Linked DNA regions of Homo sapiens: region 2 is linked to region 1. Evidence: fine-mapped expression QTL. Tissue or cell type: whole blood. Region 1 holds a variant in brackets; the other region holds the start of a gene. All regions are shown on one strand. Distances are from middle to middle.

The links. PIP is the estimated chance that this variant, and not a neighbour inherited with it, causes the effect.
Region 2: it holds the start of SDHAF2, and the variant in region 1 is fine-mapped to the expression of SDHAF2 in whole blood (TOPMed, PIP above 0.99).

What each region holds. Positions count from the first base shown.
Region 1 is chr11:61,094,538-61,100,917 of GRCh38, reverse strand. It overlaps a transcript of CD5 not described here. Among named protein-coding and RNA genes, the nearest start is that of CD5, 4.8 kb to the left of the region's middle. The variant C/T (reference allele first, on the strand shown) is at 3,222.
Region 2 is chr11:61,427,152-61,433,165 of GRCh38, reverse strand. SDHAF2 (succinate dehydrogenase complex assembly factor 2) reads right to left here and starts at 3,042. Exons shown (of 4, transcript NM_017841.4): 1 at 2,984-3,042. The coding sequence starts at 3,019. CPSF7 (cleavage and polyadenylation specific factor 7) reads left to right here and starts at 3,191. Exons shown (of 10, transcript NM_001142565.3): 1 at 3,191-3,252; 2 at 3,876-3,984. The coding sequence starts at 3,931. RefSeq lists enhancers at 2,912-2,971, 3,328-3,976 and silencers at 2,918-3,253, 3,112-3,281, 3,392-3,821.

The DNA.
Region 1 (6,380 bases):
TCCATGTTGATGTGTGTGTGATCTCCATGTTGATGTGTGTGTGATCTCCATGTTGATGTGTGTGAATGTGATCTCCATGTTGATGTGTGTGTAATCTCCATGTTGATGTGTGTGTGTGATCTCCATGTTGATGTGTGTTTGTGATCTCCATGTTGATGTGTGTGAATGTGATCTCCATGTTGATGTGTGTGTGTGATCTCCATGTTGATGTGTGTTTGTGATCTCCATGTTGATGTGTGTGAATGTGATCTCCATGTTGATGTGTGTGTAATCTCCATGTTGATGTGTGTGTGTGATCTCCATGTTGTGTGTGTGATCTCCATGTTGATGTGTGTGTGATCTCCATGTTGATGTGTGTGTGTGATCTCCATGTTTATGTGTGTGAATGTGATCTCCATGTTGATATGTGTGAATGTGATCTCCATGTTGTGTGTGTAATCTCCATGTTGATGTGTGTGTGTAATCTCCATGTTGTGTGTGTGTGATCTCCATGTTGATGTGTGTGAATGTGATCTCCATGTTGATGTGTGTGTGTGATCTCCATGTTGATGTGTGTGAGTGATCTCCATGTTGATGTGTGTGTGTGATCTCCATGTCGTGTGTGTGTGATCTCCATGTTGATGTATGTGTGATCTCCATGTTGATGTGTGTGTGATCTCCATGTTGATGTGTGTGTGTGATCTCCATGTTGTGTGTGTGTGATCTCCATGTTGATGTGTGTGTGATCTCCATGTTGATGTGTGTGTGTAATCTCCATGTTGTGTGTGTGTGATCTCCATGTTGATGTGTGTGAATGTGATCTCCATGTTGATGTGTGTGTGATCTCCATGTTGATGTGTGTGAGTGATCTCCATGTTGATGTGTGTGTGTGATCTCCATGTCGTGTGTGTGTGATCTCCATGTTGATGTGTGTGTGTGATCTCCATGTTGATGTGTGTGAATGTGATCTCCATGTTGACGAGTGTGTGTGATCTCCATGTTGATGTGTGTGTGATCTCCATGTTGATGTGTGTGTGATCTCCATGTTGATGTGTGTGTATGATCTCCATGTTGACATGTGTGATCTCTGTGCTGTGTGTGTGATCTCCATGTTGGGGTTGATGTGTGTGTAATCCCCATTTGATATATGTGTGTGTGATCTCCATGTTTGTGTTGTGAATGTGATCTCCATGTAGATGTGTGTGAATGTGATCTCCATGTTGATGTGTGTGTAATCTCCATGTTGATGTGTGAATTTGATCTCCATGTTGATGTGTGTTTGTGATCTCCATGTTGATGTGTGTGAATGTGATCTCCATGTTGATGTGTGTGAATGTGATCTCCATGTTGATATGTGTGAATCTCCATGTTGATGTGTGTGTGTGATCTCCATGTTGATGTGTGCGAATGTGATCTCCATGTTGATGTGTGTGTGTGATCTCCATGTTGATGTGTGTGTGATCTCCATGTTGATGTATGTGTAATCTCCATGTTGATGTGTGTGTGTGATCTCCATGTTGATGTGTGTGATTTCCATGTTGATGTGTGTGTGTGATTTCCATGTTGATGTGTGTGTGTGATCTCCATGTTGACTTGTGTGATCTCTGTGTTGTGGGTGTGATCTCCATGTTGGGGTGTATGTATGAGCTCCACGTTGATGTGTGTAATCCCCATTCGATATGTGTGTGTGATTTCCATGTTGATGTGTGTGATCTCCGTGTTGAGGTGTGTGATCTCCATGTTGATGTGGGGTATGTATGTGAGCTCCGTGTCCCTGTTGCTCTTAGAGGGTCTGGAATCATCCCCCTTGAAGAAGAGGCAGGGTCTCTGCAAAGAAGATGGGAAGCCCGGGGCAGGGGAAAGTCCCTGTGTTTCCCTGGGCTGGGCTGGGTTCCGTTTTTTCCTCACATCCTTTGTGCTCCCAGATGAGAAAGCTCCTGGCTCCTTGGGCTTCCTGTACTCTGGGCCACCCCAGGCAGGTAGGAAGTAGTTCAAGGACGTGATCACTGGTCCAGGTCCACTAGGGCCTGGGGCCTCCCCATCCCTGGGCTGGAGAGGCTGGCTCAGTGATGCCTCCACTTAGATTCCACTTAGACCTGTAGCAGGACAAGCCACAGACAAAACCCCTCAGACACCAAGTTAAAGAAAGAAGGGGTTTATTCAGCCGGGAGCATCAGCAAGACTCCTGTCTCAAGAGCTGAGCTCTCTGAGTGAGCAATTCCTGTCCCTTTTAAGGGCTCACAACTCTAAGGGAGTCTGCTTGAGAGGGTCATGATCGATTGAGCAAGCAGGGGGTACATGACTGGGGGCTGCATGCACTGATAATTAGAATGGAACAGAATAGGACAGGGATTTTCACAGTGCTTTTCTATAAAATGTCTGTAATCTATAGATAACATAACAGATTAGGTCAGGGGTCGATCTTTAACTACCAAGCCCAGGTGTGGTGCCGAGCAGATTTCATTTCTGCCTTTTAGTTTTTACTTCTTCTTTCTTTGGAGGCAGAAATTGGGCATAAGACAGTATGAGGGGTGGTCTCCTCCCTTATTCCCCTCTTTTGAGAATCTCACTCATGAGTGGGAGTTCTCACTTTCATTTTCACTACCATGTCTTCTTGCAAGACAGATCAATAGTGATTCACATAGTACACTTGGGCTGAAGCATTTTGGTGAACTAAGGTAGCGATGAAGCTTTTTATCATTTGAAGAAGTACAGGTAGCAAACAAGGGAGCAGTAAGCAGGTTCCTATTACTATTAAAACTCCTATTATAAGAGTTTTAAATCCTCCTAGTGCTGGGAACCATTTTCCAAACATGGCCCCAGGATCAAATTCATGCCACACTTGCACGGGCACATGTGCCAGTTTTGTCCTATCTCTAACTATATCTTCAACTACTTGTCCTTGATCATCTACGTGTAGACAGCAATTAGTAAGGTTAAATTTCCCATAGACCCCTCCTTCAGCTGCTAGCAAGTAGTCGAGAGCCAATCTATTTTGAGAGATAGCATTTCTCATCTGAGTTTCTTGCCAGGCCAGAATAGTCAAGGCTCTGCTGATTTTATCAGTGATTATTTCTAAGGCAGCTTGTAACCGTATGATTCGGTTGAGCACGTAAATGGGGGTCTGGTATCCCCACAAGCCGTCTTGTGCCCAAGTAACAGGCCCATAATATTGTATGATTCTCTCAGGGGGCGGCCATTCATCATCTTTCCAATTTTCTATAGCTATGCTTCTCTTTTTG[C/T]GGGAAGCATAGACAGGGAAGCCCAGGAGTTCACCTGTTTTTATGGGCAGTTGGAAGAAAGATGGTTTAATAGTGCCAATAACACAACTACCTGCCCAGTGGTCAGGTAATTTGGCGTAAGCTCTATGCCCACATATCCAGTATAATCCAGTGGGGGCTGTCCAGTCCTGGTGGGACTCCGGGTGGGTCCACACGGTTTGCAACTTTGGGAATTTACTAAATGGATTCCTCTCTATGTGATTTGAACTCCACCAAGTGACTGTTTCTGTGGTACCATTATACAGTTTCTGTCCCAGACAACTAAGTCGTCCTACGGGGTGAGTGAATTCTTTTCCTTCTCTAGCTATGCAATATTGTCCAATAATTGAGGCTTTTGGGACCCAGAAATTATCAGGGTGATTCTTTTGAGCCAAGAATTCATCAGGAACTGGGTCTGTAGGTAGTAATTCTTGGGCTTCCCATGGCCATTGACCTCCCATTACAGTTCCTCCGCATACATAACATGAAGTGACATTGAGAGACTGGGCTACGTGCTCGGCTAATTGCAAAAACAAATTTCTTGTTTTTCCTGGAATTTGTGGTACTGGCACATTGAGTTCATCTTAGAAAGTTTGAAACACTGGCTCAGGAGAGGGTTTGTAAACTTCTCCTCGGACCAAGTCCTGTACTGGCCAGTAGTCCTTGGTCCCTGGTTTAGGGACAGGTAGGAGGGGGGTGTTCCGTGGAGACTGGCAAGGAACTATAATTCCATAGGCTGTCAAGCGCCTGAGAGGAACCTGGATTCCTTCGAGAGCTTCTCTGGGAACCAGATACTGCTTTTGTCTAATTGGTTGGGCCCCAGGCTTAACTTCTATGAGTACAGGGGCTTGGCTGACCACCAGTCCTGGAGGATTATCCTCTGTCCATACTTGGGGCCATTGCTTAGCTAGAGCTGGTTTTATCTCTTGGCCTGGCTTGGTTAGAAAAAGTCTTCATTCTTCTTCCCGGGGGACCGTAAGGGCCATGATAACTCCTGTTGCTGGTAACTTTAGCTGTAAAGAGCCCTGCTTTGTAAAGGAGATGGTGGTTCTCAACTTGCTAAGCAAGTCTCTTCCCAGCAAGGGCAAGGGACAGTCAGGCATGTACAAGAACTGGTGAGCTATCTCATGTCCCCCCACCGAGCAGGTCCGTGGTAGACAGAAAGCCTGCTTAGTGGAAACTCCTGTTGCTCTGATTATATCAATGGTTTTCTTGGATGAGGGGGTGACCGGGGTGGTCACTACTGAAGGTTCAGCACCACTATCAACCAAAAACTTAACGTCCTTGCCCCCAGTTGTAATCCTGACCTTGGGCTCCTTGGGGGTGCTTGCGCCCGGTCCCCTTCAGTCCAGTAGCCCTTCAGCCAGATTGAACAAAGCTCCCTCATCTTTATCTGAGGTCTTTTGTTCTGAATCACCTTGCTTTTCCTTCAGTTGGGGACACTTATCTTTCCAATGCCCTACTTCCTTACAACAGGCGCATTGGTTACATTGCAAGCATGGGAGATTAGACTGGGTATTCTTCCCAGAACCCCCCTTTCCCTCTCCTTTCGGGGGAATTCCCATAATGGCCATGGCCAGTAAGTCGGCGTTTCGCCTAGCCTGGCGTTCGCCTTCCTTACGGCTTTCTCTGTGGCTTGTTGCATTCTCAAACACTTGATTGACTATTTCCAGTAACTGTGAGGTATTCATACCCGCAAACCCCAGTAACTGTGAGGTATTCATACCCGCAAACCCAGCCTGTTTCTGCAATTTTCTCCTGATATATTCCGTGCTTTGACTAAGTAAGGCCATGTTAATCATGGGCTGATTCTCAGGGCTATCTGGATCAAAAGGAGTGTACATACAGTAAGCCTCACACAGTCTTTCATAGAATTGTGCTGGACTCTCCTCTTTTCCTTGGATGACCTCAGAGACCTTATTTACATTTGTAGCCTTTTGAGCCCCTTTCCTTAGACCTTCTATTAATGCCTCACGGTACCGTCTTAGCCTCTCCATGTCTGGTCCCTCGTTCAGGTCCTATTGGGGGTCTGTTCCTGGCAGCTGAATTCTTATATATTCTTGGGGGTTTTGGTAATTGGCTGGGACGTGCTTCTCTAGCCACTTAGTTGCCGCCTGGAGCACCCTTCACCTTTCACCTGTATTAAAGAGGTACATGAGCAGCTGGTGGCAGTCAGCCCAAGTAGGATTATGAGTCTGTATAATAGTTTGGAGCAAGTCAATTAAAGCTTGAGGCTTTTCAGTGTAAGATGGAGTATTATTTTTCCAATTGAGGAGGTCAGCAGAGGTAAAAGGTTGATACACAAAGGCACGCCTTTCCACCATGTGTCCGTCCTCATCTACCCCAGTATATCACTGCTCTCTCAGGGGCATTTGGATTCCAGTCTTGGGCTGTAAGCGAGCTTTCAAGGGAGGAGTTTCTCCCGTGGCTTCACTTCCTCTTTTGTCTACTCTGGGTGGTCTGGGGTGTGGTTATCTGGTGGAGTTGTAGGTGCTGTGGGCTCAGGAGTGGGGAGCCCTTCCTCTTGATAAGGAGGGGATACTGCTGGTACCAATTCCTGCTGTGACTCTTCTGGTGTTGGGTTGGACAGGACTTTTGGTGCTGACTTCCCTCGGCGGGTGGGATCGAGAACCTTCCTTAACTAACTGTCCCTTTGCTACTAGTACTGCTGCTGCCTGTCCTCTTAACCACTGCGGGGGGTCCAAAACTAGCTGTAACCAAGAATCTATATGTGAGAACTGATCTGGGTGCCCTGGCTTACAGGTTACCCTGTGCCATACCTTCGAGACAAGGGACCTGTCCAGGCTTCCTTCCGATGGCCAACCCACCTCTAATGCTGGCCAGTCTATCTCACACAAAGCTCTAAGTTTTCCTGGTGTCATAGTGACTCCAGAGTCTCCCTTAAATCCCTTTTTGAAATTTTTCAACATAGTTCCTAGTGGGGTAGGCTTACTTTGTGTCTGACCCATGTTTCCTCGAGACAAAACACCATGCTCACACCACAAAACAAAGAACGGGTAAAAAGGGCACACACACACTTTTACAGTTTACGCCAAGCCAGAATCAAAACCAAAATCAGAGTATCAAGAAATCCAAGCCAGGTCAAAACCAAAACCAAAGTATCAAGCAATCCAAGACAAG
Region 2 (6,014 bases), 330 kb before region 1:
CCGGGAGGCTGAGGCAGGATAATCGCTTGAACCCAGGAGATGGAGGTTGCAGTGAGCCAAGATCGCGCCACTGCACTCCAGCCTGGCAACAGAGCGAGACTCCGTCTCAAAAAAAAAAAAAAATTAAATTAAAAAAATATATAGAGAGAGACAAGTACAGAATACTATAATACTGTAACTGTGGTATGTAAGTCACTTTTAATTTTGGTATAGAAATTAAAGACAAAGGTATAAAAACAACTATAAAAATTTGTTAATGGAGACAATATAAAAAGATGTAATTTGTGACATCCACAACATACAAGGGGGTCATAAAAGAGCAGAGTTTTTGTATGCAATGGAAATTAAGTTATCAAAACAGATTGTTATGTTTTATATAAGCCACATGGTAACCACAAAGAAATACCTGTGTAAGACACACAAGGAAATGAGAAATTCGTTTCTCAAAGTATGTCACTACAAAAAAAAAAAAGTCAACGAAATATAAAGGATGACAAGAGTGGAAAAGAGGAGCAAAAAGGTTGTAAGACAGAGAACAGTTTACAAAACGGCAACAGCAAGCACAGTTGGCCCTCCGTATCTGTGGGTTCCACACCTGTAAATTCAACCAACTGCACACTCAACCAACTGTGGATCAAAAATATTCAAAAGAAATAAATAATACAACAATTAAAAAACAACTAAGATATAGTATAACAAGCATATACATAGCCTTGACATTGTTTTCGGTATTATAAGTAATCTAGAAATAATTTAAAGGATATGGAAGTATGTGTGTAGATTATATGCAAATACTATGCCATTTTATATAAGAGACTGAGCTTCTGCAGAGTTTGATATCCACAGCGGATCCTACAACAGTCATCCCATGGATACAAAGGGATGATTGTACTTCCCTATTTTATTTATTTTTTGAGACAAGGTCTCACTTCCAATGCCCAGGCTGGAGTGCTGTTGCAAAATCAAGGCTCACCGCAGCCTTGACTTCTCAGACGCACTCCCGCCTCAGCCTCTCAAGTAGCTGGGACTACAGGTGTGTACTACCACACCTGACTAATTTTTTTTAGTAGAAAAGGGGTTTTGCCATGTTGCCCAGGCTGGTCTCGAACTCCAGGACTCACACGATCCACCCACCTCGGCCACTATTTACTTTAGGTATAAATGGATTAAACTCCAGGCCTGGCGCGGTGGCTCACGCCTGTAATCCCAGCACTTTGGGAGGCTGAGGCGGGCAGATCACGAGGTCAGGAGATCGAGACCATCCTGGCTAACACGGTGAAATCTCGTCTCTACTAAAAATACAAAAAATTAGCCAGGCGTGGTGGGGGGCGCCTGTAGTCCCAGCTACTCCTAAACCAGGAGATTGGCGTGAACCCAGGAGGTGGAGCTTGCAGTGAGTCGAGATCATGCCACTGCACTCCAACCTGGGCGACAGAGCGAGACTCTGTCTCAAGAAAATAACATAACATAACATAACCTCCCCAACCAAAAGACATGAAGTGGCTGAATATAATGAATTAAAAAAAAGATTCAACTATATGCCGCACAAGAGACATTTTATTAAAATCTGGAAATCAATGGCAAAAGAAAAGGTGGAAAATTCACAAATATGTGGAAATTAAACAACACACTCTTGAACAATCAATGAGTCAAAGAAGACATCAAAAGGAAAATTAGAAAATATCTTGAGACACGCCGGGAATGGTGGATCACACCAGTAATCCCAGCACTTTTTGGAAAGCTGAGGCAGGAGGATCACTTGAGGCCAGGAGTTTGAGACCAGCCTGGGCAACATAGTGAGAACCTGTCTCTACGAAAAAAAGAAAAAAGAAGGGAAACAACAGGCCGGGCGCGGTGGCTCACGCCTGTAATCTCAGCACTTTGGGAGGCCGAGAAGGACGGATCACCTTAAGTCTGGAGTTCGAGACCTGCCTGGCCAACAAGGTGAAACCCCATCTCTACAAAAATACAAAAATTAGCCAGGCATGATGGCGATGCCTGTAATCCCAGCTACCTGGGAGGCTGAGGCGGAAGAATCGCTTGAACCCGGTAGGTGGAGGTTGCAGTGAGCCAAGTTCGTGCCATTGCACTCCAGCCTGGGCGACAAGAGCAAAACTCCGTCTCAAAAAAAAAAAAGGAAAACAACAAAAAACAAACAAAAAGGAAATATCCTGAGACAAACTAAAACCCAACATATACAAAATTATGAGATGCGACAAAAGCTGTACTAAGAAGGAAGTTTATAGTGTAAACGCCTACATCAAAAAAGAATAAAGATCGAGTCCCTGGGTCTGCAGGAAAAAAAAAAAAGAATAAAGATAGGGATGGGGGTAGGAGGGGAAGATAGAGGCAAAGTTAGTTACTTTATAACAGCAGGCTAGGAAAAAAGAATAATAAGTTCCAGTGTTCTATTACATATTAGAGTGACTACAGCTAATAACACTGTACTGTATATGTCAAGATGCTAGAAAAAGATCTTGAAAAGTTATTACCGTAAATAAATGATAAAGATTTGAGGTGATGGACATGCTAACTACGCTGATTTGATTATTCGATGTACACATGTATTAAAACATTATACTGTACCCCCATAAACACGTACAATTATATGTCAATTATAAACAAACAAAAAGCTGAAGATACTATGTGAAACCACGAAAAGCATTAAAGACTAAAGAACGGGGAGAAGGGGAGCCCAGGGAAGTTGGGCTAATCCCGCCTGGGACGTAGGTGAGAGGCGAATTGGGTCTTGGACGATGACTGATCGTTTAAGCAGATATTTCCAGACCGGCACACAGTAGGCTCACCAAAGAATGGAAGCGACCTTTATTTCCTGAGTTGCAGGATCGGCCTCTCCCTGGGCCTGCCCTTGCCCTGCGCTATCGGGCAGACGAACTCTCCCCAAGATAGAGACCACAGAGGAAGACAAAGGGTAATCCCCGCTGCCGCCCGCCCCGGACGCTAGAACGTTCTCTCTCCTCACCAGCGACGAAGTCGAGAACACTGTAGACACCGCCATTTTCCCCACCTGCACCGGAAACCGGCTGCGCGGGCACTTCCGGGAACTCCTAGCCGCCCGGCCAGCCGACCACGGCAGCCACGGAGGAGCTGAGCCGGAAGGTGCGTCCCTGCGCATGCCGGAAGTGGCGGTGCGTGTGACGCCGGCGGCGGGGGGGGCGGGACCTGGGGCGGAGAGCGGTTCGCGCGCTTCGGGCCTAGTCCGGACTCGCCGCCGCCGCCGCCATATTCCCGGTAACGGGGGCGCGCGGTCGGGGGCAGGTTGGGCCGGAAGAGGGGTCCGGGCCGGCACTGAGGCGGGAAGGGGGTCGGTTGAGATGGGACGGCCGGAGTCTGCGGGCGGAGGGAGTCGCGGGCCTTTTGAGGGAGGAGGCAGAGCGCGCCGGGCCGGGTTTGTCGGGAGGGAGCGGGGCGGGCCTAGCTGGGGGCGAAGAGTAGGCCTGGGTTGGGGGCAGAGGCGGCTGGAGCTGCTTGACACCTGGGGGCTCTGGCCGGAGCCGCCTTGGGGGCTAGGCAGGTGCAGCGGATAGGGGCTGCGGGCTTCGCCGCGGTCATTCTTCGCAACGCCGTCCTAGGGCCACTAGGACCCGAGGGTGGGACTTTTCCGTCGCGCCATAGGCAGCTGCGGCGCAGACGCGGCGCTACCCGGGTCGGGCCCGAGGGTGATGGGCAGCGACCCCCGGCGGCCTGGGAGAGCGGTGGGCGGCGCGAGGCCGGGGGCGGGGCGGAGCGGGTGGGGCCGAGCTGGGGCCGCCAGGATGCTGCGTCTCTGGAGATGGGAGGTTAGCAATCATTACCCTCTTCCCAGCCCAGGACCCTCGTGCCTTCTAATTCTTGCATTTTTCCGAATCCCGCAGTGGCATCTTCCTTACTTTGTCCATCCTCCGGACTCGCGATCTTCCTTCCGGAGCCATGTCAGAAGGAGTGGACTTGATTGATATATATGCTGACGAGGAGTTCAACCAGGTGAGGTGTCATCAGGAGCTTTGGGATTTTCCTTGATCATCTGAGGAATCATTTTCAGCAAACTGGCAGTGGTTTCAAGCTGTACCAGTCCTAGGCTTGAACACGCGTCTATCCGGTCTAAAATTTTTCTCCTGCAGAAACTTTAAAGACTACACTCCATTCCTCTTTATGTTAATTTGAAGCTCCAGGCTTAATTTTAAAGGCTTTGATTTAAGAGCAAATAAAAAGCAGGTGTAATAGAATGGTGAATCAACCTGTGGAATTTACTCCCCAGGAAGCCAAAGGTGGGTGTCAGACTAACCACACTTAAAAATCAAAAGTACATTTGCTACGGTATTCATGAGGACAGTGTTGATACCGGTTCCTTTACATTCTCAACCTGCAGCTGGAGAAGTGTAGTCCCCTCCATCGTGACAGTGCAAAAGCAAAGTAGAAAAGATGACTTTAACATTTAGTTTCAACTCCATTCCAATTAAGTTTTACTTCCTTTTATAAGTAGGTTGACTCCAGTCATGAGAAGTCCACAGGCATTTTGGTATAATAAATTGTATTGGTTACCTTTAGTCTTTCTAGAGGGAATAAAAGAGTAAAGACGTTAGACAAACCAGTTAGAAAACTGATAATAGACCCATGCACATACCCTCAGTTGGATTTGTTTTTATTGTACCAGGGAACATTATACAGAAATTTATCTAGAGCTGGGCAAGGTGGCTCTTGACTGTAATCTCAGCTGCTCTGGAGCCTGAGATGGGAAGATTACTTAAGACCAGAAGTTCAATACCAGCCAGGGCAACATACCAAGACCCAGTCTACAAAAATGTAAAAAAAAACAACAACGAGATATGGTGGCTTGTGCCTGTAGTCCCATCTACTCTGGAGAGTGAGGCAAGAGGTACTCCCTGAGCCCAGGAATTCAAGGCTGCAGTGAGCCATGATTGGGCCGCTGCACTCTATCCTGGGCAACAGAACAAGACCCTGACTCTTAAAAACACAAGAAAAATTCTCTCAAAGAAATAATCTTCCATGCAGTTAAGTTTTTCAGTCTTGAGGTCAATTCTCAAGAATGTTCCAAAATTTCTATTGAAAACGTACTAATATCTTGCCTGGGTTATTTTCAGCACCATTCTATGTAAGTAAGCTGGCTCTTCCCATTTGCATCTTCCAGTGGGTACACATAAGGACCTGGTAAGAGCATGTATTGAATGGGTTAGAAAGGGAAAGTTCCCTGGTTTGACCCTGACTTTGATATGAGGCAACAGAAGAGGCGGATACATGCCATTTATTTTTCACTTGGCATAAGTTTACATGAAAATCTATTTTTTGATGTATTATGGTTTTATAACATGGAAATTATAAACCATACACAAAAGCAGAATAATGTAATGACCTTGTACCCATTATACAGCTTCACCAATTATACTTTTTAATGGCAGGTTTCTTGTCTCTGTTGTGGTTAACTGTGGTCCTTTAAATATAGCTGCTGATTATCTTAAATAGATGAATTTTCCTTTTTTTTTTTTTTTTTTCTTGAGACAGAGTCTCTCTCTGTCACCCAGGCTGGAGTGCAGTGGCGCGATCTCGGCTCACTGCAACCTCTGCCTCCCAGGTTAAAGTGATTCTCCTGCCTCAGCCTCCTGAGTAGCTGGGACTACAGGCGTGGGTCACCTCACCTGGCTAATTTTTGTAATTTTAGTAGAGACGGGGTTTCACCATGTTGGCCAGGTTGGTCTCGAATGCCTGACCTTGTGATCCGCCCGCCTTAGCCTCCCAAAGTTGGGATTACAGGCGTGAGCCACCGTGCATGGCGAAAAAATTTTTTAGTTTTAAATAAGTCCAATAATTATGGATAAAAGAGAAAAGTTCTAGATGTTAATTTAGTTACAAAATCATTGTTTTCCTGAGTTTTCCATATTCATTTGAATCAGACTTTTAATACCTTAAAAAAAAAAACACACAGTCTTGCTGTGTTGCCTAGGCTGGTCTCTCAACTCCTGAGCTCAAGCGATTCTCCCACTTCAGCCTCCCAAACT